Linked DNA regions of Homo sapiens. The protein of the gene in region 2 interacts with the protein of the main gene of each other region in a pairwise test. Each region holds a gene or a part of one and is shown on either strand. Other genes may lie near its edges. The genes, in order: PPEF1, AHCYL1, PLEKHG5 and ZNF165.

Region 1 (5,803 bases), on a different chromosome or scaffold from region 2:
GCTGGGACTACAGGCGCCCGCCACCATGCCTGGCTAATTTTTTGTATTTTTAGTAGAGACGGGGGAGGTATGAGATTTCTAAGATATTATTAAGATAAAGGGGACTGAAATAAATGGGTGGGTATTACTGTGTTCAAGGACTATAAGGGTTGAAGTTGTCAAGATACAAATTCCTCCCAAATTGAGCTATAGTTTCAATGCAATCTCAGTCAAAATCCCAAGGTGGGGATTTTTCAGTAGATCTTGAGAATCTGTATCTAAAAGTCATGTGGAATTACAAAAGGCCCCAAATAGCCAAGATGTTCCTGAAGAAAAAGAACAAGGTGGGAAGACTTTCCCTATTATATATCAAGATCTATTATAAAAGTACAGTAATTAGAATGGTATGCAATTGGCACAAGAATACCCATATAGACAATGGAAGCAAGTAGAGAATCCTGAAACAGATTCATGCATATATAGACACTTGAAGGTCCCACTGCTGAGCAGTGGGCAAAGGAGTCTTTTCAATAAACGATGCTGGGCCAAATGGATATCCCTATAAAAATAGAAACAGCCTATATGTAATAAAGATATTTGTGTTTTGAAAAATTACATATATTAGGAGGAAAAGAATATTAGTTGTGAAATGACAGGTGAATAATACATCTTTTATTCTTTGTATTCTTTTGTGTTTTTCAAATCTTCTATAATAAGCAAACCTAGGCCGCGCATGGTGGCTCACACCTGTAATCCCAGCACTTTGGGAGGCTGAGGTGGGCAGATGACTTGAGGTCAGGAGTTCAAGACCAGCCTGGCCAACATGGTGAAACTCTATCTCTACTAAAAGTACAAAAAAATTAGCCGGGTATGGTGGCGTACACCTGTAATCCCAGATACTTGGGAGGCTGAGGCAGGAGAATCACTTGAACCCAGGAGGCGGAGGTTGCAGTGAGCTCAGATGGCACCACTGCACTCCAGCCTGGGTGAAAAGAGCCAGACTCCTTCTCAAAAAAAAAAATAAATAAATAAATAAGTAAGCATACCTTACTTTGTTAATCAAAAAAAAGGAAAAAAAAAATCTAACACGTGAAGTCTGATTTCTTACAGGTGACAGGAAGGACACGATCTGTGGAACACTGAAGATATCCTTGAGTTAGTTCTCCTTCAGGGCTGCAGGGCCTGGGAGGATAAATTATGAGGGAGAGCAGCTGGCCCCATGCTGCCCTGGCTCTCCCAAGGAGGTTGCATTCTTTAAAATCATATTTTAACAAATCATTTGGGCTTTGTTATTGTTGTTGTTAGGAAAACTTTCTGTGAGCCAGTGGGCTTTTTGCATGGAGAACATTTTGGGGCTGAACTTACCATGGAGATCCCTCAGTTCGAATCTGGTAAACATAGACCAAAATGGAAACGTTGAATACATGTCCAGCTTCCAGAATATCCGCATTGAAAAACCTGTACAAGAGGCAAGTGAAACATAGCCCCAGCTAAAACCTAGCCAGGGTGAAACATAACTTAGTCCTTTGAAAAGCTGGGAGTGGCCGGGCACAGTGGCTCACGCCTGTAATCCCAGCACTTTCGGAGGCCAAGGCGGGCAGATCCCGAGGTCAGGAGTTCGAGACCAGCCTGACCAACATGGTGAAGCCCCGTCTCTACCAAAAATACAAAAATCAGCCGGGTGTGGTCGTGCCCACCTGTAATCCCAGCTACTCAAGAGGCTGAGGCAGGAGAATTGCTTGAACCCAGGAGGCGGAGGTTGCAGCGAGCCAGGATCGCACCATTGCACTCCAGCCTGGGTGACAGAGCGAGACTCCATCTCAAAAAAAGAGAAGCTGGGAGTGGGATAATCTAATAGATGGAGTGGCAGTCTTAGGAAAAGCCGAAGGGGAATCTCCCAGGTACACTGTGGTCTGTTCAGCAAATTTGTGTGTTCCCAGGATAAGCAAAAAGAAAAAAGAAAAAGCTTCCACAAGCAAGTCCACATCAAATACTGGATTTTTTTTTGTAAGTGCTGTCTAGCAGAAGGGGAGATATGACATCCATGCTTTTTGTTTGTTTTTTGAGGTGGAGTCTCGCTCTGTTGCCCAGGCTGGAGTGCAGTGGTGCAGTCTCGGCTCACTGCAACCTCTGCCTGCCACGCTCAAGTGACTCTCCTGTCTCAGCTTCCCAAGTAGCTGAGATTACAGGCGCCTGCCACCATACCCAGCTAATTTTTATATTTTTAGTGGAGATGGGGTTTCACCATGTTGACCAGGCTGGTCTTGAACTCTTGACCTCAAGTGATCTGCCCACCTCGGCCTCCCAAAGTGCTGGGATTACAGGCATGAGCCCCTGTGCCTGGCCTGACATCCATGCTTTTATACAACATACCATTTCTAATACTTAATGTATTGCTTGTTAAGCCTGAGTGTACAGACTTGCTGACATGACCCAGAATATGTCTGAAAGAGTTTTGAAATGTAGAAATCTTTTCTTAGAATGTGAATATCAGGGAGATTTATCAGATCCCCATACTTATTAGTTAACAATTCATCAGCAGTTAAATATGACATTGAGCTGAAAAGGAGCTGGTTGGAGCTAGGACTTGGGTGATCATTTGCAGTGAAGATGAGACGTTAAGAGCAGAGAGAAGGGAAGTAAAGGTAGGTTAGAGACTAAAGTATCCCCAGGAAGGAGGCTTTTGACGTCACTTCAGAGGCAGTTTACCATGGTGACTAAGATCACAGGCCTTGGCTTCAGGCAGCCGAGATTTAAATCCCACTCACCAGCTCTGTGACCCTTGGGAAAGTTCCTTTATCTCCCTGTTTTCAAATTTGTAAAATGGACATAATAATAGTTCTGTTCTTGTTCATTCTTGTTGTAGAGGACCGAATGAAATAATCCACATAAAGTTCTCTGTAAATGGTGGCTGTGTTAGTTACTGCTGCCTTATTCATTTTGGCCCTGTCCCCTGAGGATCACAGACTGAATGAAGAGGGTGGGGCCTCCAAGGGAAGTCTGGCCTTCTCAGATTTCTGTCTAAATCACATCATTTCAATTGTTGATGATGTTTTCTGTTTGTTACATTTGCTAAAAGCGATCAGTGTCATGAATTCAATATGTTCTAACACTTAGAAAATCTTTATTTTAGGCTCATTCTACTCTAGTTGAAACTCTGTACAGATACAGATCTGACCTGGAAATCATATTTAATGCCATTGACACTGATCACTCAGGTAAATAAATGAACTTGGATGAGTCCATTTAAAAAGTGTATGTGTGTGTGTATGTTGGGGATACAAAATGAGTACACTTTGATTGAGCCCTATAATTAATATGGTTTGACACCTTCATTGGTAAGATGGAGGCCTTGCTTATGCATACTGTTAAATGAAAATTGTAGGAGCCCATTGTTTTGGACTAAGCTCCTTCACCAGGCCCCAACAGACTAGACTAAAAGTCAAAATGGGGTAGCAGTAGTAGAAAGCAAAGGCTAATCTGGTTCTCTGAAATCAGAACTCTGATTTTATCTATTTTGTTCTTCATCTAACATGATGAAACTTGAGGGGAAAAAGAAACTCATTTAATATTATTGTTATTTCAGTTTGGCTGCAGACTCTGTATTCAAGACCATAGAGTCCTACAGAAGCCTAGGTAGCCATCAGTCAAACTGAAATAACTTTTTATAAATCACCAGCACAAATGAAAAGATGATTTACTATCCATTTCAGTATCTTAGTTACTCATGGCCATAAAAATCATTCCTAGAAATCTGATTCTGTTTTGGGGAGTAAGGGCTATGAAAAGTCATTTTCTGCTTTTTTTTTTTTTTTTTTTTTTTTTTTTGCGACAGAGTTTTGCTCTTGTTGCCCAGGCTGGAGTGCAATGGCGGGATCTCAGCTCACCACAACCTCTGCCTCCCGGGTTCAAGCAATTCTCCTGCCTCAGCCTCCTGAGTAGCTGGGATTACAGGCATGCGCCACCACACCCTGATAATTTTTATTTTTAGTAGAGATGGGGTTCTCCATGTTGGTCAGGCTGGTCTCGAACTCCCGACCTCAGATGACCTGCCCACCTCAGCCTCCCAAAGTGCTGGGATTACAGGCGTGAGCCACTGCGCCCGGCCTTCTGCCTTTAGCTTTGATGCACAATTACTTATTTTCAAATTTTTAAAAACTCATCAGATAATCCCCTAATGCAGAGACCTTTGAACACCGAAAAAAAAAAAAAATCAATGATCAACACATTAAAGTAAATGATTGCCTGTGAAAAAGGCAGCACCATTGTTTGTAATCCTCTTATTGACTCCCACCGTATCTTCTCCCTCTGCTTTGATGTCATCCTCCTCTCTGCCCTCCTTCCATGCACCTCACCTTTCTATTTTAGGTCTTGTAATTTCTATACCACATTTAGTCCCATAGTCCACAACCCCGTCCCCATTTCTTCACTGTTTGCTCATTCTGGCTTTAGAATAAGTTCAGGATCCCTTGGTAGTTGAAAGTGAGATATTGTTTCTTACATTTATGATCTTACTCTTCCATATCCTTCAGTATCTTCATGATTAGGCAGTTTAGTGAGTTTCTAACTGGGGCTATTTAATCAGTGTGGGTTCCCCAACCCTTGCCTTAGGTGGGTCTTAAAATGAACACTCACAACCTTCTCCTATATTCTTTTAGGCCTGATCTCCGTGGAAGAATTTCGTGCCATGTGGAAACTTTTTAGTTCTCACTACAATGTTCACATTGATGATTCCCAAGTCAATAAGCTTGCCAACATAATGGACTTGAACAAAGATGGAAGCATTGACTTTAATGAGTTTTTAAAGGCTTTCTATGTAGTGCATAGATATGAAGACTTGATGAAACCTGATGTCACCAACCTTGGCTAAACACAAATGAGAGCTTCCCTCAGGCTCCCTGAAACAGCTAGGCCCAAATCACAAGTACAGTCCTTTCCAACACCCCTGAAATTCATAGTCAGTAGCAGAGAAAAGCAGATCCCAATTCATCCCACAAACAGATGCATAGTATGGGTTTTGGAAGTCCCTAGCAAGCTGTTATTGGTAAGATTAGGTTAAATGTCAGTAATAGGATTTGGTTTCAGCATTAGTACCTACATATTGCCAGTGAGAAACTGGGTTGGACCTAGTGGTGTTGTCGTGAGTGCCACCTAACCAGGAGGCCAGAGCGGTTTGAAAACATCCTGAAAGGAACTCATACAGCACAAGAGAAAACTACTAAGCTTGACATCTGTGAGTGACTGAGGGAGACAGGAGGAATACCAGGTTATTCATGGAATAAAGTCTTTCCATCTTTAAACTGTGATCTTCTTTGGAGATTTTATAAGCCAGTGATCCTCAATTAAGGGATCCACCCTTCAGGGATGAGAACCATATTGGATTCTTGGGGGGAATCTGTGGGAGTGTATTGTTTGAAAAAGCGTATTTGTGTGTGTGTGTATGTTGGAGATACAAAGTGAATACACTTGGATTGAGCCCTATAATTAATATGGTTTGACACCTTCATTGGTAAGATGGGGCCTTGCTTATGCATACTGTTAAATGAAAATTGTAGGAGCCCATTGTTTTGGACTAAGCTCCTTCACCAGGCCCCAACAGACTAGACTAAAAGTCAAAATGGGGTCACCCATGCTGAGGTCCTGTGTCATCTCCGGCCAGCTTCAATTGGCATAATAATGAAGTTCCCTCTGCCTTACAACAAAAATAACCTGATGTTAACCAATCAATTATTTGTTTATTGTTATTTCCCTGCTGTCTTACAAGGAAGGTAACTTTGAAACAACCAGTCTGCTTTTTGTCCTTTGGTTCTGCTTTCTTCAGTTT
Region 2 (7,030 bases):
GAATCTTCATGTCTTGCTTGCTAAGAAAGCTGGTGCTCAGAAGCTGGGCACTGAACCCTCAAGTATTGAATAATAAGTGGGATACCACCTGGCCACCCATAAGAAACTGAATTAGTTACCAAAGCAACTGGATACATCTGCTATCTCTAGGAAGCACCTATTTCAACTTCCAAAATAGCAAAATTTGCCGGGTGCAGTGGCTCATGCCTGTAATCCCAACACTTTGGGAGGCCATGGCGGGTGGATCACCTGAGGTCAGGAGTTCGAGACCACCCTAACCAACATGATGAAATCCCATCTCTACTAAAAACAAAAACAAAAACAAAAAAAACACCAAAAAAAATTTAGCCAGGTGTGGTGGCACATGCCTGTAATCCCAGCTACTTGGGAGGCTGAGGCAGGAGAACTGTTTGAACCCGGGAGGTGGAGATTGCAGTGAGCCGAGATCGTGCCATCACACTCCAGCCTGGGCGACAAGAGCAAAAATCCATCTCAAACAAACAAACAAACAACACAAAATAGCAAAATTCTGAAGGTCTCCTTTTCCCCTGAATCTTGCCTAAGTTATACACTTGAAGTGAAACAGAACACACAAAATGTAGTGCCAACTAGAGCCTGAGCTTCTGGCTAGGATAAGCATTGGCCCAGTTCCCAGAAGACTGTAATTCTAAAGAAGGTGTGTTTCAAAGAGAGAAGGGCATGTATAGCTTTTGAGCATCAAACTCAGCCTTTGACTCAGAAGGGGCAGCCAGGGTTGCAGAGTAAGAACCAGAAGTTTGCTCATCACTGCCGGACGGAGCTGTTGTTTATTACTTTCAGAGTTCCAATGTACTTTCCAAAATCAAACTATTCAACTCATCGCTAATCCCCAAACCTCAAATACCCTATGTGAAAGCCTCCCTGTTCTTTAAATCAAGAGCATGTATAAACCAGGATACCAGTTTCAACTTTGGACAGAGTCTCCCTAATGCTAAGGGTTTAAAAGTTGTTTCAATGGTGAGAAATTCAAGTTACCTTCCCCATTATTGTCTAAGGATATCCCTATGCCCACTGCCACTGGGCTAAGAAGCTGGAGGCATATATTCAGATGTCTTCTCCCTGACCTCCTATTTCTGGCTTTATAAAGGGATCTATTAAGTTGGAAATTCTCATCAATTTCTCACCTGCAGTTCTTGGTACTTCCTTATACCTATGTGAGAGGGCTCTAAGTTAGAAAAATCACCCCAGCCAACTGAAAGGGAAAGTGAGTCAAAGCCACCACATAAGTCCAACTTACTTTCTCCAAGGAATGATTATCTCACATTATTTTATTCAATAAGCATTTATTGACAGTATTATGTGCCAGGTACTATATAAATATGTGTGAGATACGGTCTTTGCCCTCAACATATTCCATCTAGAAAAGTCAAATGATGAGTAAAATTCAAATATCAGGTCAGTCCTTAAAATATAATAGTTTGAGAAGTACTACATTGAAATCCAACCTATTTTTGAGAGACATACAGAAGCAAATTATTTTGTTTAGTTTTGATAATCTACTATGTGAGCTACTATTTCAAACACTCCTACGGAATCAGCTCTGGAGCTTCAGGGGCATCTGCATTTCATATGAAGAGCAGTAGAGTTGAGATAATACCAAAAATTCCCCCAAAGTGGCCGAAATGCCGGTTCGAATGTGTGTTAAGTTCCTGAGCTGAACTCTCAAGGCACTTATAATGAGTCTTTTGGGAAGCTGAGGAGCATCCCAAAGAGGGAGCTGACAATGCCAACAACCTCAGCTTTGTTCCAAGCCATAAGGACAAACTGCAGGCTGGAAACTTAAATCTCTTAGCAGTTTGTGGACTTGTAATGAAAAGAGATGCTGTGGCTTGGAGGCCTGGCCTTCCACATCAGGACTTTAAAACCCAGGATCCATGAGTTTCAGAAGTCCCATAAATCCTCTAACAGAATACGCATATTTTTGTGCTCCTGAATTTTCCTGAGGAAAGAACCAGGATTTTCATTAAACTCTTAAAAGGACCTCTGACTCAAAGAGTAAGAACCATTGTTCTACAGTCTCTAATCCAGTGATTCTCAAGAGCATTCCCTCAAATAGGCAAAAGAGAAGCATATTCCAATTCTCTATCTTCTACACAAATCTGTCTACTTACTGACCTCTCTTCTAAAATTAGAAACAAAGATGGGGATGTGCATTTTGAAAATTCAAAGTGAATCTCTATTTTCTACATCCCCAAAATAAAGCTAACAGTCATGAGAACCTGAAGTCTTCTCCTTAAAGTCTTTGAGAAAGGAGAAGGGGTGGGTCTGGTCAAAGAGGGCAGATCAGAATCTCTGTCCTTTAACTTTTTTTTTTTTTTTTTTTTTTGAGACGGAGTCTTGCTCTGTTGCCAGGCTGGAGTACAGTGGTGCGATCTTGGCTCACTGCAACCTCCACCTCCTGGGTTCAAGCGATTCTCCTGCCTCAGCCTCCCGGGTAGCTGGGACTACAGGTGTGTGCTGCCACACCCAGCTAATTTTTTTTGTGTTTTTAGTAGAGATGGGGTTTCACCATGTTGGCCATGATGGTCTCGATCTCCTGACCTTGTGATCCTCCTGCCTCGGCCTCCCAAAGTGCTGGGATTACAGGCGTGAGCCACTGGGCCCAGCCTGTCCTATTAACTTTTATGGTAGGTCTCTCTCTTTTCTTCCCCCCGCCCCCAGATTTCTGGAACCACAAAGGAAACAGGTCATGGCCCAAAAGCTTTGACGTGAGGTCTTGACGTGAGGTCAAGCCAGTCTTGGGGGAAAAGGGACAAAGTATTTCCCATTAAGCATATGGAAACCTATGTCCCAAAGGTTCACCTTAATACAATTAGTAAGTACTAGAAGAGTTGGAGCCATTTATTAAAAACAGAACTTCCAAAATCCTCTCATTGCTCAAAACTCAGTATGAACGGCTTCATTCAGGAAGTCTAAGTGAATGAAAGATGGTTATACTCATCTCCTCCAGCCTCTTGCCCCTTTACTCTGTCACTCACAAATTTACTACGTAGTTCACACTGAGCCACACATCATTGTGGATCAGCACATTAGCATTTTCCTTGGCACACAGGCTCAGAGGGATTCCACTAATGCCATCGTACACTCGCAGGTTCCGGAGAGAAAAGAAAAACATGTCAACAATAGGGTGTGCTCTTGCTGAGCAGTTCCTCAAATTGTGAAGAAGTAAGCCTGAGGCAGGTCCAAGATGAACAGCATGGAACAGAGAGCAGTCCCAGACCCCTCCTGTTTAATATGCCCCATTTCCATCACACAACTGAGTACAGGCTGTCCACTTTAAAACAAGTGAACTGGCTTGGGCTGGTAGAGAAGAACATGTTAAGCCCATTAAGCCCCACAGGTTAAGTACACAGGCACATCAGCGGAGGCGTTGGGGCTTTTATGGTAAGAAGCAGGAGCATGCTTGGAGAGTCTTGTACCTGTGGTTCTCAAAAGTACTTTTCCAATCTCTACCCCAGATTTCCAAATACTACCTTTTACCAATAGTTCATTAAACTTTTTACTTTGTGTTCCATTTGGGTAGTGAATGATTAAGCCCCCCAATGTATACTGATAAGCAGTATCCATCATTATCTACATTCTGAGATTAAGGCACCAGGCTAAATCCTTTAGAAAAATTAAACAGAGATAGAAACAAAAATGAAAGCAGTCTGAGTCTCTCAACAAAGGCATGGATGCTCCACTCTAGTTCTATGAGTGGCATGCAGCAAAGGCCACACATTTCTACAGGAGAAAATCAGTTATACATAATTAGAAGCAGGCTGTTAAGAGCAATGAGAAAACAGTACCTGCAGGGATGGGGGCGGGGGTGCTGGAGTACATACCTAAAATGATAAAGTCACAGTTCAGAAGTCTTTGCAATTATTTCATGTAATTCAAGGATTCTAGTTTGGGAAAACCCCAAACACCTGAAGTTTAAGGAAATAAACTCCTGGACTGAGACTGGCCCAGTGTCTGACAAATACCCACATTCTATGAGTGCATTATGTATTACGGGGGATGAATGGGGAATGGTAAGGTAGAGGACATCTCAACTCCATCAAAAGCTCTAAGATCTCTGTCTACACACCCCACCCCTGTAGTTAACAAAATGTTTTGGGGTTCAGTAGCTGTAAGCTCTATATAAAATAACATTTTTGTCAGAAAAAAATTTTCTTATTGAAAAGACATTCCAATAGAAACTTCTTTGTTTTGGCTCTTTAACATTTCAAAATTAGGCTCTCATTTGCACTATCATGTTGCATCATCCAGAGAGTTATAAATAGGGTGGCCACATAAACCAGGGTAACTTTCAGAGCTACGGAGGCACTCCTTGGACTGCATGCTAGGATAACAGGTATAAACCAGAATTGCGCCAGGCAAACCAGGATATATGGTCACTCTAGGTACAAAAAAACCCCACTAATTACTATTTACTAAATGCTAACCCTCTCAACCATGTATATAGATAGCACTATCATTGTTCCCCATTTTACAGATGAGAAAAGGACGTCACTTGTTGAATGTCCCACAACTATTAGATGGTAGAGACTAAAGGTAAAACTGACTCCAAAAATCAGTGCTTACCTTATGTTGTACTACTACTCACAGTTTTAGGAACAGAAACGGGAAGTTAAAGGCGTCTTATGTAACAGCCAAGCAACAGTGGGACAAAAGAACTACTTGAGTGAGTCAAAGGAAAATATGGAATCAGAAAAGGAAAGGCAACTGCAATTCTGTGTGAATTTTTATTAACTGCTTACTACACAATAGGCACTGATAGTATTGACAATAATCAAAAGGAAAATTTGTGGTAAGAATTTGTCTTCAACTGGGGATTCTCAGATTTCAGGCTAGAAAAAATTCTGGTCTATGCACGTAGGTTGCCCTTCACATGACAGGAATGCTTCTGACGCACCTCATTAGCATGTGTTCTGAATTACTATTCAGTTCTAAATTATAATAAAATGTATCCAGTATAATCAGGGTTGACATTCTTTATAAAAATGCAATACTCACATTCCCAAACTTGAGAAACAGGTACGTATAAATGATTCTCCTTTATTCGCCAGTTCCTTTAAAACAACCCCAAGAGGGCATTAAAGTGCTTATTTACAGATCATTAACTACTCGGAGTGGCAGAGTACACTTGCTAGGAGTCACAGGCAACTAAAGACCTGCATGATTCCATGTATCAAAATATCCTTTATAGACAACTTTCCAAGAATACTATATTGGGGTGGGCGTGGTGGCTCTTGCCTGTAATCCCAGCACTTCGGGAGGCTGAGGTGGGAAGATCGCTTGAGCCCAGGAGTTCAAGACAAGCCTGGGCAACACAGGGATTTCCCCATCTCTATAAAAAATAAAAATAAATTTTAAAAAAGAATATTATATTGGGTAAAACACTCTGGATCCAAATGACACACTCCTGATAAAAGAAAAGGTATACATTTGTAACCTTGGCAGCAAAAGATCTAGACAACTACTGATCTAGAAATCTTCTAACAGATTTCTGTTACAAGCTAAATGTCTAAAGAAACTTGGAACAAAGTAATTTGGAAACTAGAGTGTAACTAACTAAACCAAACAAGAAAAAGAGATGTAATCAATACCTGCGGAGAAATCTTAAAAAGAGGATCTTCTTACACCCCAACTCCTGTTTTAAAGACTGCTACTACAACAGCAGCCACTCTAAGGAGAATCAAGAGATACTAATGATGTGAAGATAGGAAATGCCAACCTATGAAATCTCCTTTCAGTGATTCTGACAAGTCCTGGCGTAAATTCTATACAACTGCACCAAAAATTAACCGTAAGATAACTCTGATGACAAAAGGAGAAACCTGGATTTTACCTATCGGGTTAACACCCAAGCTGTACCCATTGGGGCTCTACTTGGTGTGCTTCCTAAGTCTCAGCTGACCCTTTTGATGAATTAGTGGCACATAGCTTCATTCAAATAAAGAATATCCTATAAACAAAAGTAGTTTCTTCTGTGCTCTTCTCCTTCCCCACATTTTGCTGATGGGTCTGACTCCACAGATCCTAGGTCAAAATGTTTAATGGATCACTCTGGAGAGTGCCTTTAATGTTCAGAAGTTCAGAGAACAGCAAATGTTCTGAAAGGCCTTCCGGAGAAACATGCTTATTGTAAGAGCTCTCCAACAAGTTGGAGATTTGGGTTTACACTATGAAAAAAGAATCAACTTGACACAGTGTCAATTTCCAAAGGTCCAAGGACAGTTACCACTCCTGTTACACAAAGTAGCAGCAAAAGAGGGATAAATAACCAGTGGTTATGGGGAACTAGATTACTTACTTGGTTTGACCGATAACTGCCAACATTAAACAAGGATCTTCTTCAGTTGTGGTACACTTAACTCTTAAAACTCAAGGATTCCTTTTCTTACCTCAAATTTTCCTAGCCATACCATCTGAAATCACCAGTGACAGTCGTGAACAAGCCTTACAATGTGAATTACACTACAGCTATTAAGACATTCCCGTGAAAAATTATTTTAGAACTCTGTGTCAGGAAAAGTCGTCCCCTTGAGGAATTGACATGTATTATTTCCCATGCCTGCTAAGGAGACTGTAACTATGATTCTTTTCATCCTCTGGCTGCTAAAAGTTTCAAGTTGCATGTGATCAACCTCATCAACTATCTTAGCCCTCGAGGTTAACAATATTTTTTTCATTCTTTCTATAGTTTTTACTTCCTTTTATATCACATATATGTTCTGTGTTATAAGCCACTTCAAATGCCCATTGAAGAAAGAATATAAATATACGAATAGACTTTTAAAAAATTACACTGCTATCTTAACTCCCCAACATGCCCCTATCTCCACCTGTTCCAAAAAAAATAGGCACTTATTTGGCAGATGAGGAGATGCAGGTACAAAAGCTAATTAATTTGCTCAAGGTCATATCCCTTTAGTTGACTTCTCGACACCCAGACATCTCAAATCTTCAATCAAACCAACAAGTCCTATTTTGTTCATAGCAGTGT
Region 3 (7,030 bases), about 100 Mb from region 2:
GCTTGGGCCCCGCCCCCACGAGCCCCCGCCCCACCCACAGCCCCAGCTGCCCCCACCTTCCCAACGGAAAAGGGAAGCCCGCATGGGATCACACGCAGGTCCACAGACACCTGCCCGCAGAGGTGCTCACACAGGCGCATCTGCATACCACGGCAGACCTGTCACACGCCTGCCCACACGCAGGCCTGGCTCCTGCATACATGATTAAAATGCACAAGTACACAGACCCCACCGCACTCCCTCACACTGGCGTGCACACCAGCACGGGTCTGCCCACGCAGGGATGCGCTCGCTCACGGGCCACCACACAGACACACACGTCACACCTGCAGAGACCCGGAGCCTGCAACATGGGGCCACCCCTACTCCCAGTCCCACTTCCACCCTGAGCCCCATCAAGCCCTACCCCAGTGACTTCTTCTTCATGGCTGGGACGATCTCTGTCTCAATGTCCACATTCAGGTCAAATTTCAGAGTGAAGCATTCCTTGCTTGGGTCCTGGGAGGATGGTGGGGGTGGGGGCTGTGAGCTTCTCCTCACCGCCCTCATTCCCGCCCTCCTCCCCACCCTCCTTCCCACCCTCCTTCCCAACCCTCCTCCCCACCCTCCTTCCCACCCTCCTTCCCAACCCTCCTCCCCACCCTCCCCACCCTCCGGTCTCGGATGGGAACCCCAGCAAGAAAGGGAACCCCAGCGATCTCCCAGACCTCTGCACCCTGGGATGCAGACCTCCCCACCCCCATCCCGGAGGAAGGCCCAGGCTCGGGGAAGGGCGCAGGCTGTAGGGAACCCGCATCTGCCGGCTCTGGGGGGCTCCTCACATCCGTGTGTCTCCTCCTTGCTTTCTTCTTGGAGAGTTTCAGGCCTGTGCTCTTCCGGTCCCTGCAGGGAAGCGAGGAGGGCAGAGGCTGGAGGTGTGGGTGGCCCTCGCCAGCGTGGGCGGCGAGTGGGCCTGTGGCCTCCCCGCCCTTGGCTCACCCCAGGTGACAGGTAACCCGCGTGGATTCAACCCGGCCAGGCCCGCATAGGGCTGTGCGCCCTCTGGTGGCCAACACGGGAGTCACATCGAACGGTACCTGGTCTGGTGTGGGCTAGGATCCCAAGCACCCTGGAGGCTGGCCCAGGCTGGGTGGCCTCTTCCCGGAGTCAGGACAGCCACAGGCGTGGGAAGAGGTCTGCCCATCAGCCTTACTTGAGGAAGGCGCCAGAGCATCTGGTCCTGAATGTCTGATCTGAGACCCAGCCGTGGGGCCCTCCAGGTATCTCTCTGCCCACTCATCCCTCACCTACCCTTTGCCATCCACAGAGCTCTCCTCCTCCTCCTCCTCCAAGTCCACTGCGGGGCTGGTGCGCGGCGGGCATGACCGGGTGGACACGTTCCGGGCCAGCACAGAGCCTTGGGAGAAAGCAGGAGAGGGTTGTGCCTCCCCCGCCCCTCCTTAGCCTGCAGCATGGCTGCCTCCAGAGGGACCACAGCCTGTTACCCTGGAACCCCCAGATTAAAGGTAGCAAGGGCCCTTCAGTTCTGTGAGGAGAGGGGCTCAGTCATTGTTTTTTGTTTTTGTTTTGAGATAGGGTCTCACTCTGTCACCCAGGCTGGAGTGCAGTGGCATGATCTCGGCTCACTGCAACCTCCACCTCCTGGGTTCAAGCAATTCTCATGCTTCAGCCTCTTGAGTAGCTGGGATTGCAGGCGTGTGCCACCACACCCGGCTCATTTTTTTGTATTTTTAGTAATGACAGGGTTTCAACATGTTGGCCAGGCTGTTCTCAAACTCCTGACCTGAAGTGATCCACCCACCTCAGCCTCCCAAAGGGCTGGGATTACAGGTGTGAGCCACCTTGCCTGGCCTTAGTCATTGCTGTCTATCCCCACAGACCCAAAAGGACACAAAGGCCCTGGGATGACACCCATGGTGAAGCTCCACCCCAAAAACAAACTCACCTGTGGCCTCAGTTTACCCTTCTATAAAATAAGGATAAGGAAGCCTTGCCTCTGAGGTTATTACAGGAAGGGACCAAAGTCCATGGCTCTTTCTTCCAGGCCTCCCCTCCCCCATGCTGTGACCACACCTGAATTCCCAAGGGGCCCTGGCAGTGGGAGAGAGTCTTTTGTTTGTTTATTGTTTTTTAAGACAGGGTCTTGCTCTGTCGCTCAGGCTGGAGTGCAGTGGCACGATCAGGGCTCACTGGAGCCTCCATTGTCGGGGTTCAAGCGATCCTTCCACCTCAGCCTCCGAGCAGCTGGGACCACAAGTGTGTGCCACCACACCTGGCTAATTTTTGTATTTTTTGTATTCCAGACATGAGCCACCGTGCCCAACCAGAAGAATCCTTTTGTTCCTCTGATCAGCTGGGAAAGGACTCGGGGGTTGGCATTTCTCACCAGGCCTGGGTGCCTGCGAGCCACTCCTCCATAGGCAGTTGATGGTGGGCCTGAGCTGGGTCCCTGCTCAGCAAGAGGAATTTCTTATTTCCTGCTCCAAGTGCCTCCTGACCTGGCCACCCCCACTCCACACTGCCTCTGCTAGGCCCACAGCCTGGCTTGCAGGACTTGTCCAGAAGTCCCCTGCCCTGAGGATAGGCAGAACTAGAAAGAAAGGGGCCTTCTCTGTGTGGGCCACAGGCCAGGGGCAAAAGCAGCTGGGGGAGGTGAGAACCAGTGAGAGCACAGCACCAGATAGAGAAAGGCCTGCCTCTGGAAGGGGCACGCTCATGGACTTTCTCTCTTGCTAAAAAACATTTGGAACAAAAGGAACCGTAACATACTCGGGTTTCATTATTTACAGTCGACTTGTCCTTATGACGCCCTAGCACGTTTCCGACAGTTACTGAAACACTGACACAGGAGCTCTGGGGGCCGAGCTGCGGCTCCCGCCTGTGCTCACCTTGTGGGGGAAGGTCGAAGCGGACATGCCCATCATAATGCATGGTGCTGTGGAACTTGCTGTCACAGGCCTCGCAGAGGTTGAGGGGCCCCCGGCGGTGCAGCTGCTGGCAGTCGGCGTGGTGACATACCTGGGGTGGGGACAGAAGCCTTCAGGAGGTCCACGAGATCCACCACATCCCTCGACCCCGGCCCAGCGCTGCAGGGACTTAGAATGAACTGCCCTCCATCTCTCGATCCAGGGTGAGGAGACGCCCCCCAGCAGTCCCCCCTCTCCCACATCATCAAGTTTCCCCTCTGCTGGATCATTTCCCCCACTGCCACACCAACACGTGGTTATTTCTCCATCTTTTTCTTTTTTTTCTTTTTCTGAGACAGAGTCTCATTCTGTCACCCAGACTGGAGTGCAATGGCTTGATCTCGGCTCACTGCAACCTCCGCCTCCTGGTTTCACGCAATTCTCCTGCCTCAGCCTCCCCAGTAGCTGGGATTACAGGCGCACACCACCATGCCCAGCTAATTTTTTTTTTGTATTTTTAGTAGAGACAGGGTTTCACTGTGTTGGCCAGACTGGTCTCGAATTCCTGACCTCGTGAACAGCCCGCCTGGGCCTCCCAAAGTGCTGGGATTACAGGCGTGAGCCACCGCGCCCGGCTTCTCCATCTTTTTTTTTCTTTCTTTCTTTGAGACAGGGAGTGCAGTGGCACAATCATGGCTCACTGCAGCCTTGACCTCCCAGACTCACGTGATCCTCGAGCCTCAGCCTCCCGAGTAGCTTGGACTAGAAGCACACACCACCATAGGCGAGTGTTTGTATTTTTTGTAGAGACGGGGTTTCACCATGTTGCCCAGGCTGGTCTCAAACTCCTGGCCTCAAGTGATCCGCCCACCTTGGTCTCCCAAAATGCTGGCATTACAGGCATGAGCTGCCACGCCCAGCCTTATTTCTCCATTTTACAGAGGCCTCACCTCACCCTCCAGCTACGGCTGACTTTCTTTCTTTCCCTTCACAGCTAAACTCTGTAAACAGGTATCAGTATTCACGACTTCCTAGTTCTCTCCTCCCACTCTCTTTATTTTTCCCAAGTTTTGTTTTAAAATATTTCTTTTCTTTTTATTTTTTTAAATTTTTCTGAGAAGGGGTCTCGCTCTGTTGCCCAGGCTGGAGTGCAATGGCACGATCTCAGCTCACTGCATCCTCCGCCTCCCGGGTTCAAGTGATTCTCCTGCCTCAGCCTCCCAAGTAGCTGAGATTACAGGCACAATCCACCACGCCCGACTAATTTTTGTATTTTTAGTAGAGACGGAGTTTCACCATGTTGGCCAGGTTGGTATTGAACTCCTGGTCTCAGGTGATCCGCCTGCCTCGGCCTCCCAAAGTGCTGGGATTACAGGCGTGAGCCACCGCGCCCAGACTTGTTTTAAAATATTTCAAACCTACCAAAAATTATAAGAATAGCACATGACATCCACATGCCCTCTGGACTCCCCAAGTTGATATCTACCACATCTGCTTCTCTCCCATTCTCTTCTCGGCACCCCCCTCCCCTGGGGCAGAAATCATGCTGCTGCCTAAGAACAAAGACAGTTTTCCTACAAAACCCCATAGAATTGTCGCACTTGGGAAACTGAACCTTGATATATAGTCTATATTGACATTTTCCCAAGTGTCTAAATAACGTTCTTACAGATATACTTCCTCATATAGGAACTAATCAAGTTTCACACGTGGCATTTGGTTATGTCTGTTTATCCTTTTTTTTTTTTTTTTTTTTTTGAGACGGAGTCTCGCTCTGTCGCCCAGGCTGGAGTGCAGTGGCGCGATCTCGACTCACTGCAAGCTCCGCCTCCTCGGTTCACACCATTCTCCTGCCTCAGCCTCCTGAGTAGCTGGGACTACAGGCGCCCGCCACCACGCCCGGCTAATTTTTTGTATTTTTGGTAGAGATGGGGTTTCACCGTGTTAGCCAGGATGGTCTCGATCTCCTGACCTCGTGATCCGCCCACCTCGGCCTCCCAAAGTGCTGGGATTACACGCGTGAGCCACCGTGCCCAGCCTTGTTTTTTGTGGTCTTTTATTACATTGACTTTTTTTTTTTCTTCAAGACAGGGTCTCGCTCTGTAGCCCAGGCTGGAGTAGTATGGCATGATCAGCTCACTGCAACCTCAACCTCCCGGACTCAAGTAATCCTCCTGCCTTAGCCTCCTTAGTAGCTGGGAATACTAGGTGCATGCCACTACGCCCAACTAACTTTTTTATTTTTAGTAGTGACAGATCTCACTATGTTGCCCAGGCTAGTCTTGAACTCCTGGGCTCAAGCAATCTGCCCGCCTTGACCTCCCAAAGAGCTGGGATTATAGGCATGAGCCACTGTGCCTGGCTGACCTTGACATTTTGGAAGTCTTCGAGCCAGCAGCCTCGCACAGAGCTCCTCAATGTGGATCTCCCTGGTGGTCCTCAGAAAGTTTCAAACTGAGCGTTCAGGCGGGGACACCACAGAGCTGTGTGTTCTTGCTATTTGCCTGTAATGCTGGATCCTCTGGGGACCTCTGTACCTTGTAGAGTCCCTTTTTCCCCTATAATTAATAAGTAATCTGTGGCATGGCACTTTGAGATGTCTTGTTCCCCAGTAATCTCACTCAATCAGTTGAGGTCAGGAGTTCAAGACCAGCCTGGCCAACATGACAAAACCCCATCTCTACTAAAAATATAAAAAATTGCCAGGCACGGTGGCTCATGCCTGTAATCCTAGCACTTTGGGAGGCCGAGGCGGGTGGATTGCCTGAGCTCAGGAGTTCGATAGCAGCCTGGGCAACACGGTGAAACCCCGTCTCTACTAAAATACAAAAAAATTAGCCAGTCGTGGCAGCGTACGCCTGTAGTCCCAGCTACTCAGGAGGCTGAGGCAGGAGAATTGCTTGAACCGGGGGCAGAGGTTGCAGTGAGCCGAGATCACACCACTGCACTCCAGCCTGAGTGACAGAGCGAGACTTTGTCTCCAAAAAAAAAAAAATTAGCCAGGCATGGTGATGTGAGCTTGCGGTCCTAAGAGCTTTAGCATACATAGATGATTTTAACCTAAATCAATTATTTGATTCTTCTGATGGCTGCAAGGTGGGGGATTTCCTTTTTTTTTTTGAGACAGGGTCTCACTCTGTCACCCAATCTGGAGTGCAGTGCCGCAATCTCGGCTCACTGCAACCTCTACCTCCTGGGTTCAAGTGATTCTCCTGCCTCACCGTCCCAAGTAGCTGGGACTACAGGCATGTACCACCATACCCAGCTAATTTTTAGTAGAGATAGGATTTCGCCATGTTGCACAGCCTGGTCTCGAACTCCTGGGCTCAACTGATCCGCCCGCCTCAGCCTCCCAAAGTGCTGGAATTAGTGCTGGGATTACAGGTGTGAGCCACCATATCAGCTTGGGGTCACTCTTGACATTCTCTGTTATGCCCCCATCTGGTCAGCCCGAAAATCCCGCTGGCTCCACCTTTAGTATCTGTGGCCTCAACCCAGCCACAGCTCATAAGCGTGCCACTGCCCAGCCACCTTTTAGCTAGATGACAACAATGGCCTCAAAACTGGCCTCACTGCTACCCCCATCCCCCACAATATGTTGTCCATGTGCAGCTAGAGTGGGCCCTGTTCAAAGAGGAGTCCCACTGTATCTACTCAAAACCCTCCAAGGGTTCCCATCTCACTCTGAATAAAAGCCAAAAGGGGCCAGGAGCAGTGGCTATGCCTGTAATCCCAGCACTTTGGGAGGCCGAGGCGGGCGGGTCACCTGAGGTTGGGAGTTCGAGACCAGCCTGACCAACATGGAAGAAACCCTGTCTCTACTAAAAATACAAAATTAGCTGGGCATGGTGGCGCATGCCTGTAATCCCAGCTACGCGGGAGGCTGAAGCAGGAGAATCGCTTGAATACGGGAGGCAGAGGTTGCAGTGAGCCGAGATTGTGCCATCGCACTCCAGCCTGGGGCAAAACTCCGTCTCAAAATAAATAAATAAATAAATAAATAAATAAATAAATAAATATATAAGTAAATAAAAAGGCCAGGCGCGGTGGCTCATGCCTGTAATCCCCAGCACTTTGGGAGGCTGAGGCAGGCGGATCACAAGGTCAGGAGATCAAGACCATCC
Region 4 (6,961 bases), on a different chromosome or scaffold from region 2:
CCCTATTGGCTAGGGTTGGACTGCATAGTCTAAGCTAATTCCAACTGGCTGTTTTAAAGAAAGCAGGGGTATGAACCACAGTGGCGGGGTGAGCAGTTTCAGTGGGAAGGACGGTTACAGAACAGGCGATTAAAGGTGATGCAGGTCAGAGCAGATGACCAGGGGTGACTCAGGACAGAGCAGGTGACCAGGGGAATAGATGTGAACTACTGATTGGAACTGGTGGAAAAGGTTGTTTACTGAAACTAGGGGCAAGGAGATGAGGTTAAACTTTAAAGTGGAGAACAAAGAACTGAACATACTGACATACTGATTCTTTGAAGAGAAATTTAGAACTCACTGTATTTAACATGGGGCTTAAATTGGACAATAAAGGATGAGAAAGATTCAGAAAGGAAAGGAACAGAGTAGAGGAAGTAGGAATGAGCAGCAGACTGATGGTGAGATCAACTTGCAGGGTGTGATGGCTGGAGTGACTAAGAATTCTACTGCCTCTGTTAAGAAATTGCTCAACTCTAGTCTGAGTTCTTACAATTCCTAACACATACACATATGAATATATAAGTCCTTGTATTATTTTTAGTTGTTTGGCTGTTTTTTTATCAACTGATTGATGTTCCATGAGGTTAAGGATCATGCATTATTAATTGTTCTTAAGGCTTCATATTTATGATTGAAAGGAAAAATTAGGAAAGTTTCAGATGACTTCTGTTTTGGATGATCTGTATTTAAGATGATAATAAGACATCTACTTGGAAAAATATTTCCAACAGAAACAATGATATTTCAATAATGGAAAAGAATTTGGAATGGGAAGACAGATTTTGACAAGTGTTGGGAACAGGCCCCCAAATCTGGCCATAAACTGGCCCCAAAACTGGCCATGAACAAAATCTCTGCAGCACTGTGACATGCTCATGATGGCCTTGACGCCCACGCTGGAAGGTTGTCAGTTTACTGGAATGAGGGCAAGGAACACCTGGCCCACCCAGGGCAGAAAACAATAGCATGAGCGATCTGTGCCTTAAGGACATGTTCATGCTGCAGATAACTAGCCAGAGCCCATCCCTTTATTTCGGCCCATCCCTTTATTTCCCGTAAGGAATACTTTCAGTAAATCTTATCACTGGCTTGCTGTCAATAAATAAGTGGGTAAATCTCTGTTCAAGGCTCTCAGCTCTGAAGGCTGTGAGACCCCTCATTTCCCACTCCACACTCTATATTTCTGTGTGTGTCTTTAATTCCTCTAGCGCCACTGGGTTAGGGTCTCCATGACCGAGCTTGTCTTGGCAGACAAGATTCATGAAAAGGGTAGTTGAAGATATGTAACAGTATTAATTCTCCAAGAGTATGAAATAAATATCACTAGGTTCAGACTGAACCTTGGAAAACAAACAATTTGAGTATAAGTAAGAACAAAATTTATCAATGATAAAGAAAAAAAAGGGGGGTTAGTTCCATGGTATATTAACCAGAGAGTCTCAATCCCTTATATTTTACTGGGCCATTTCTTTGATATTTCTGGTTATGTTTCCTAGATGCGCTAACCAAGTAGTGTCCTAATGCTTAATGAGCATGATCTCATTTACCATAGTAAGATGGGTGTAAAGTAGGCCCATATAATCCGAATGAAATTTCAATTATGCTGAGCAGCTGGTTCTATGACATGTTATCTCAGCTGACAGTACTATCTCCAGGTGTTTTATCACTTCTCATCTATTTAAAACCGAGTCCCCCTAAAGCTGGTAGCTTTAAACTAATAAATATTGATTGAGCATCTAGTGCCTTATAATATTGTGTTAGGAGGACTTACAAAAATGGGTAAGCAGATGTGTGAAGAAACGCTAGGAGAACAGAGAGGAACGAGTAATTAATTATGATGAGAAAGTTGGAGGTTAAAGAGCAGGGCTCCTGATGGATGAACATGTCTTGGTGGGCATGTTGCGGGAGGGGAAGACGGGTGAGAGTTTTGTTGGTGGAGAGGGAGACAGTCAGGGGAAATCCGGTAGAGACCACAAAGCAGAACAGAGACTTCAAGGGGCATGCTGGTAAAGGCTCCCATAGTACCTTGTGTTTCTCAAGGGCAGGGGGTCAGTGTTGGTTTAACTGCATCCTCGGCACACAGGAAATACTATTTACCGTGTCAATAAATTTCAGGACAAGCGGGGTTGTCCCCAAGTGTCCTACAAAACGGCGGTTACTCTTCCCAAGGGAAGCAGGGGATTGGGGATGGTCCTCGCAGCAGTTTCTTTTCGCAGACAATGGCAGATCTGAGACATGTGGCACCCCTCCCCGTTCCACCTGGCTGGAATGGGCAACTCCTCTTACCAGTGACCCCAAATTCAGGATCAGTAGGACAGCCCCCACCCCACGCCACCAAGCCCTCAGCGCTCCACTATGACGTCACGCGCGGCGGCGGTAACTATGGAGACCGCCAAACCCTCACTAAATGCGTAAGCGCGCCTGCGTTCCCAACGCCGAAGCTGGTTCTACCTTTCTCCGGGATTCCTCTGAGGGCCAAGGTCTGGTCACCCAGAGGCTGCTAATTTCAAAGGCAATATGAGAGGGACTGGATGTTTGGAGGGGGACACGGGGCTGGACATCTGGATCCCCAAACCCGGACTCACCTCTCGGACAGGGCTGATTCCGATCGGACACTTCCGGTGGAAGGACTGAGCGGCGCTACACTTCAAGAATTCCGTCCACAGGGACTTGTGAGTCTGCGCAGAAGGCGGGATGCCTTTGGACTACAATTCCAAGAATCCTTCCTGGGTCTCTTCGGGCGCAGACTTTTCGCCAAAGTCCTGAAGATCTCAGGGCTTGAAGGAGGGGGCATCTTTTTTCTCCATTGTAGTAGTGTGTCTTGCTAAATAACAGAAGGGACTCCTGAAAAGAAAATGACGTTGGCCGGGCGCGGTGGCTCACGCCTGCAGTCCCAGCACTTTGGGAGGCCGAGACGGGCGGATCACGAGGTCAGGAGATCGAGACTATCCTGGTTTACGCGGTGACACCCTGTGTCTACTAAAAATACAAAAAAAAAAAAAAAAAAAAAAATTGCCGGGCGTGGTGGCACGCGCCTGTAGTTCCAGGTGCTCGGGAGGCTGAGGCAGGAGAATCGCTTGAACCCGGGAGGCGGAGCTTGCAGTGAGCCGAGACCGCGCCACTGCACTCCAGCTTGGGTGACAGAGTGAGACTCAGTCTCAGAAAAAGAAGAAGAAGAAAAAGATACACACTCGAGCACACATTTTCTCAGCAAAGCAATTTACTTCTATAGAAGGGTGCGTCTCACGGATGGAGCAATGGCGAGAGCACACCTGAACAAGGGAGGGGAAGGGGTTCTTATCCCTGACGCAGGTAGTCCCTAGTGCTGTGTCGTTCCCCTACTGGCTAGGGTTGGACCGCACAGTCTAAGTTAATTCCGATTGGCTATTTTAAAGAGAGCAGGGGTATGAGCCGGAGTGGTAGGGTGAGCAGTTTCAGTGGGAAGGACGGTTACGGAACAGGTGACTAAAGGTGACTCAGGTCAGAGCAGGTGACCAGGGGTGACTCAGGACGGAGCAGGTCACCAGGGGAACAGATGTGAACTACTGATTAGAACTGGTGGAAAAGGTTGTTTACTGAAACTAGAGGCAAGGAGACGAGGAAAATGAGGAAGTTAAAGTTTAAAATGGAGAACAAAGAATTGAACATACTGACATACTGATTCTTTGAAGAGAAATTTAGAACTCACTGTATTTAACAAGGAGTTCAAGGCCAGCCTGGCCAACATGGTGAAACCCCGTCTGTACTAAAAATATAAAAATTAGCTGGGTGTGGTGGTGGGCGCCTGTAGTCCCAGCTACTTGGGAGGCTAAGACAGAAGAATCGCTTGAACCCAGGAGGTGAAGGTTGCAGTGAGCTGAGATCACGCCACTGCACTCCAGCCTGGGCGACAGAGCAAGGATCCATCTCAAAAAAAAAAAAAAAAGTTTATTCGGGAATAGGAAATTGCAATAAGAATAGACGTGCCAGAGTAAACTATGTTTCTATTCAGGGAGGTAAAGGAAGACAAAGGTTTTTAAAGGAAGAATGGGGAGGATTATTTAATTGTTTTGAAATCATTATTCTTGACTACAAAGATCGGTAACGAGGATGACACCAGTCTGAGGTTAGACAAACAGTTGCTGGGCGGATGTCCTTGCAGAGGTATTTTTGGTGTAAGATGGGTTTTGCAGTCATATGTGATAGTTTTCTTATGAGGCATACAAGCCTGAGAAGTGTCTCTTCATAGCCCTCCCTGGCTCTATCTGTCAGATTATTGCTTTTGTTTTTATTTTTTAACACTAGTGGGCCGGGCGTGTTGGCTCACTTTTCTAATTCCCCGCTTTGGGAGGCAAAGGCAGGAGGATTAATTGAACTCAGGAGTTCGAGACCAGCCTGGGCAACATAGTTGGGACCTCGTCTCTACAAAAATTAAAAAAAAAAAAAATTAGTCGGGGGTTGTGGAATGCACTTGTACTCCCAGCTACTCGGGAGGCTGAGGTGGGAGGATCGCCTGAGCCCAGGAGGTGGTGGCTGCAATAGTGAGCTGTGATTGCACCACTGCATTCTAGCCTGAGTGACTCCTGCCTCTATTTAAATCTCAGGTGGTGAAATTGAAGCCCACGCAGCAGGGTTGCAACTGAAACTTCATCTCCTCTGCAAAACCTTCCTGCATTCCCAGACAACTTTTCTTCTGAGGCCTTGTTTGATTCATCCCCTTACCCCAGTGGAACTCAGATATTCAAAATGGTATTAATTAAAACCACTGGCTGTCATTGGTCCATGCATGGCCTTAAAGTGTGAACATTTTTTAATCCATTACCTAGTCTATAAGAACTGTAGATTGACAACAACTTAGATTTAATACTACTCTTTTTCTAGTCCCTCTCTATACTACCTCTCATCCGAGGAAACACTATCACAAATTTTGTATTTGTTGTTCCCTTGCTTTTTAACAAGATGATTCTATTAGATATGTACTGTTTTGTCCCCCAAAAGTGGTGGCAGGGGAGTTCACACAAGGGAGTGCCCAAAACCGTCCTAGTTGGGGCTGGTTGGGATTCCAAAGAAAGGAGCACTATGTGCCAAGGTGATCTGTCCAAAGCATTTATTAAGGGAACTTACATAGTGTTGCAGGAATCCTCCCCATGGGTGGTGAGAGAAAAGGGACATTCTACCTAGATATGTCTGCAGTGAGGGGGTCAGGGTATGGAGTTTATATAAGGGTTTAAAGAATTTGGCTCAGGGCCAGAGCTAGTTTCTTTCACTGTTTTCAGTGACAACTTAGATACCTTTATCAGTGCCTGGGAATGTTCAAGACCCAAGTTTGGGTTCAAGCATGCTGGGAAAAAATCTGCAGCTGGCTAGGTCACAGAGAGGTCAAGGCACTCTGATTTTCAGTCACAGAATAGTCAAGGCTCTGTGATTTCCAGTCAGAGATCCTGCAATCCATTTTCCTGACTGGCTCTTACAATCTCACATGCCCATCTCTTCCTATATGTTCCCTGAGCTGGTCAGAAAGGGTGGGATCATCGGCAATTTCTTTCCCCTGGCTTTATGAAACACTGCAAACAAAACCTACACTAACAGTAAATACAAGTGCACCTGACAAAATCTAAAATCACATTTTCCAAAAGGCTTCCTAGCAGAGCTTTCCACCAAGGACCCCATCCTGGAAAACATGACTTTGTGTAGACCACCAGGCATACCCTATGTGGTCAGTAAGCTGTAATTGCTTTCGTGAGTGAAGGACGGATTGATTAACTTCAGCTTCTTTGTCTAGAATATACACACAATGTTCACTTTTGTAAAGGGCACAGGTTCCCCCTTGCACAGATGTCAGCATCTCTAGGGCCATTTGGTTTTGTAGACCACTTTTTTCACTGCAGCTGTTTCAATGTTCAAGGCCTCCATACCATGTTTGGTGTTGTTCAAAGCTGTGGAGACAAATCTCTGAAGGGCTTCCAGCTTCTACACAGTATCAGAAGAACCTCCTGGAGGCACAAATATAGTCAATAAGTAATCCCACCAAGAAAAAACAGGTCTACTCCACTGACCTCTCCAGATGGACTCATTGAGGGATACAGGAATGGTGCCAGAGATTCTGGAGTCATCCAAGCCACCCCAGGGGAAGCCAGGGCTGGAGGTTAGTAGCAGAGAGCCACTGGGTGCCATCTGGGGCAATTCAGTATATTCCTGGCCTACAAGACTGTTTGTGACAAATCAATCTGTGACCTTAAGGATAATGGTGTGTTGGCATTGGGCAATTGGGAGGAAATCTAGGTACTAGGAGAATACCTTAGGTATTACCTGAATGTCTTTAGAGTGATTATGTTGTTCCCAACAGATCTATGCAACTCGAGAGCATCCTTGCTGTAAGGATGAGCTAAAGAAAGCCATCCCACATTTGCCAGTATGATCTCCATTGCCAGAACCTGGTGCTCTTCAGGGCAGTTTTCACTTTGATGGTTGCCTCCTATGGGACATGTTTAGGGAAAAACTTAAATTTTGTCTGTAGTTGTTCAATGTCCTATCTCAATCACTCACATTTGCATGTGTGGTGTTAGAGGAATCTAGGGTACCTATTTATATGCATTGTCCGGTCATCCAAGTTTGTACAGAGATCCAGTCTTTACCCAGTAGTGGCTCAGTCCACCATGGAGTTCCTACATGGCTATTCAAGGGCATAAGACCAAACACTCAGCAGTTAGGTTGGCCATGCAGATGGGCTGTGTGATGGCCCCAGGCCAGGAAAACATTTTGGAAGGATTTCCAGGTGCCAGTGGGAATGATATAACAGCAAAAGGAGAAGGCAACTCAAGCTAACAGTGAAATGACAAAAACTTATTAGAAACACATAGGGCGTCTCCCACTCTCTGGCATAATAAAGCTGGTATTAACTCTGCCTTGCTACAATAATTTTGGTTTCCTTGGGAATCTT

What was found.
Region 1: the proteins of AHCYL1 (region 2) and PPEF1 interact in binary tests that used the Homo sapiens proteins (3 or more experiments, as listed by UniProt).
Region 3: the proteins of AHCYL1 (region 2) and PLEKHG5 interact in binary tests that used the Homo sapiens proteins (3 or more experiments, as listed by UniProt).
Region 4: the proteins of AHCYL1 (region 2) and ZNF165 interact in binary tests that used the Homo sapiens proteins (3 or more experiments, as listed by UniProt).

What each region holds. Positions count from the first base shown.
Region 1 is NC_000023.11:18,822,639-18,828,441, forward strand, and holds the end of PPEF1 (serine/threonine-protein phosphatase with EF-hands 1), read left to right. Parts: intron 1-1,284; coding exon 1,285-1,448; intron 1,449-3,112; coding exon 3,113-3,197; intron 3,198-4,637; coding exon 4,638-4,849; 3' UTR 4,850-5,279; downstream 5,280-5,803. UniProt on the Homo sapiens protein: May have a role in the recovery or adaptation response of photoreceptors. May have a role in development.
Region 2 is NC_000001.11:109,987,744-109,994,773, reverse strand, and holds part of AHCYL1 (S-adenosylhomocysteine hydrolase-like protein 1), read right to left. Parts: intron 1-7,030. UniProt on the Homo sapiens protein: Multifaceted cellular regulator which coordinates several essential cellular functions including regulation of epithelial HCO3(-) and fluid secretion, mRNA processing and DNA replication.
Region 3 is NC_000001.11:6,474,641-6,481,670, forward strand, and holds part of PLEKHG5 (pleckstrin homology domain-containing family G member 5), read right to left. Parts: intron 3,019-7,030; coding exon of another isoform or gene 2,932-3,018; coding exon 2,889-2,931; intron 1,397-2,888; coding exon 1,291-1,396; intron 883-1,290; coding exon 822-882; intron 499-821; coding exon 407-498; intron 1-406. UniProt on the Homo sapiens protein: Functions as a guanine exchange factor (GEF) for RAB26 and thus regulates autophagy of synaptic vesicles in axon terminal of motoneurons. Involved in the control of neuronal cell differentiation.
Region 4 is NC_000006.12:28,076,637-28,083,597, reverse strand, and holds the start of ZNF165 (zinc finger protein 165), read right to left. Parts: upstream 3,031-6,961; 5' UTR 2,628-3,030; exon of another isoform or gene 2,068-2,627; intron 1-2,067. UniProt on the Homo sapiens protein: May be involved in transcriptional regulation.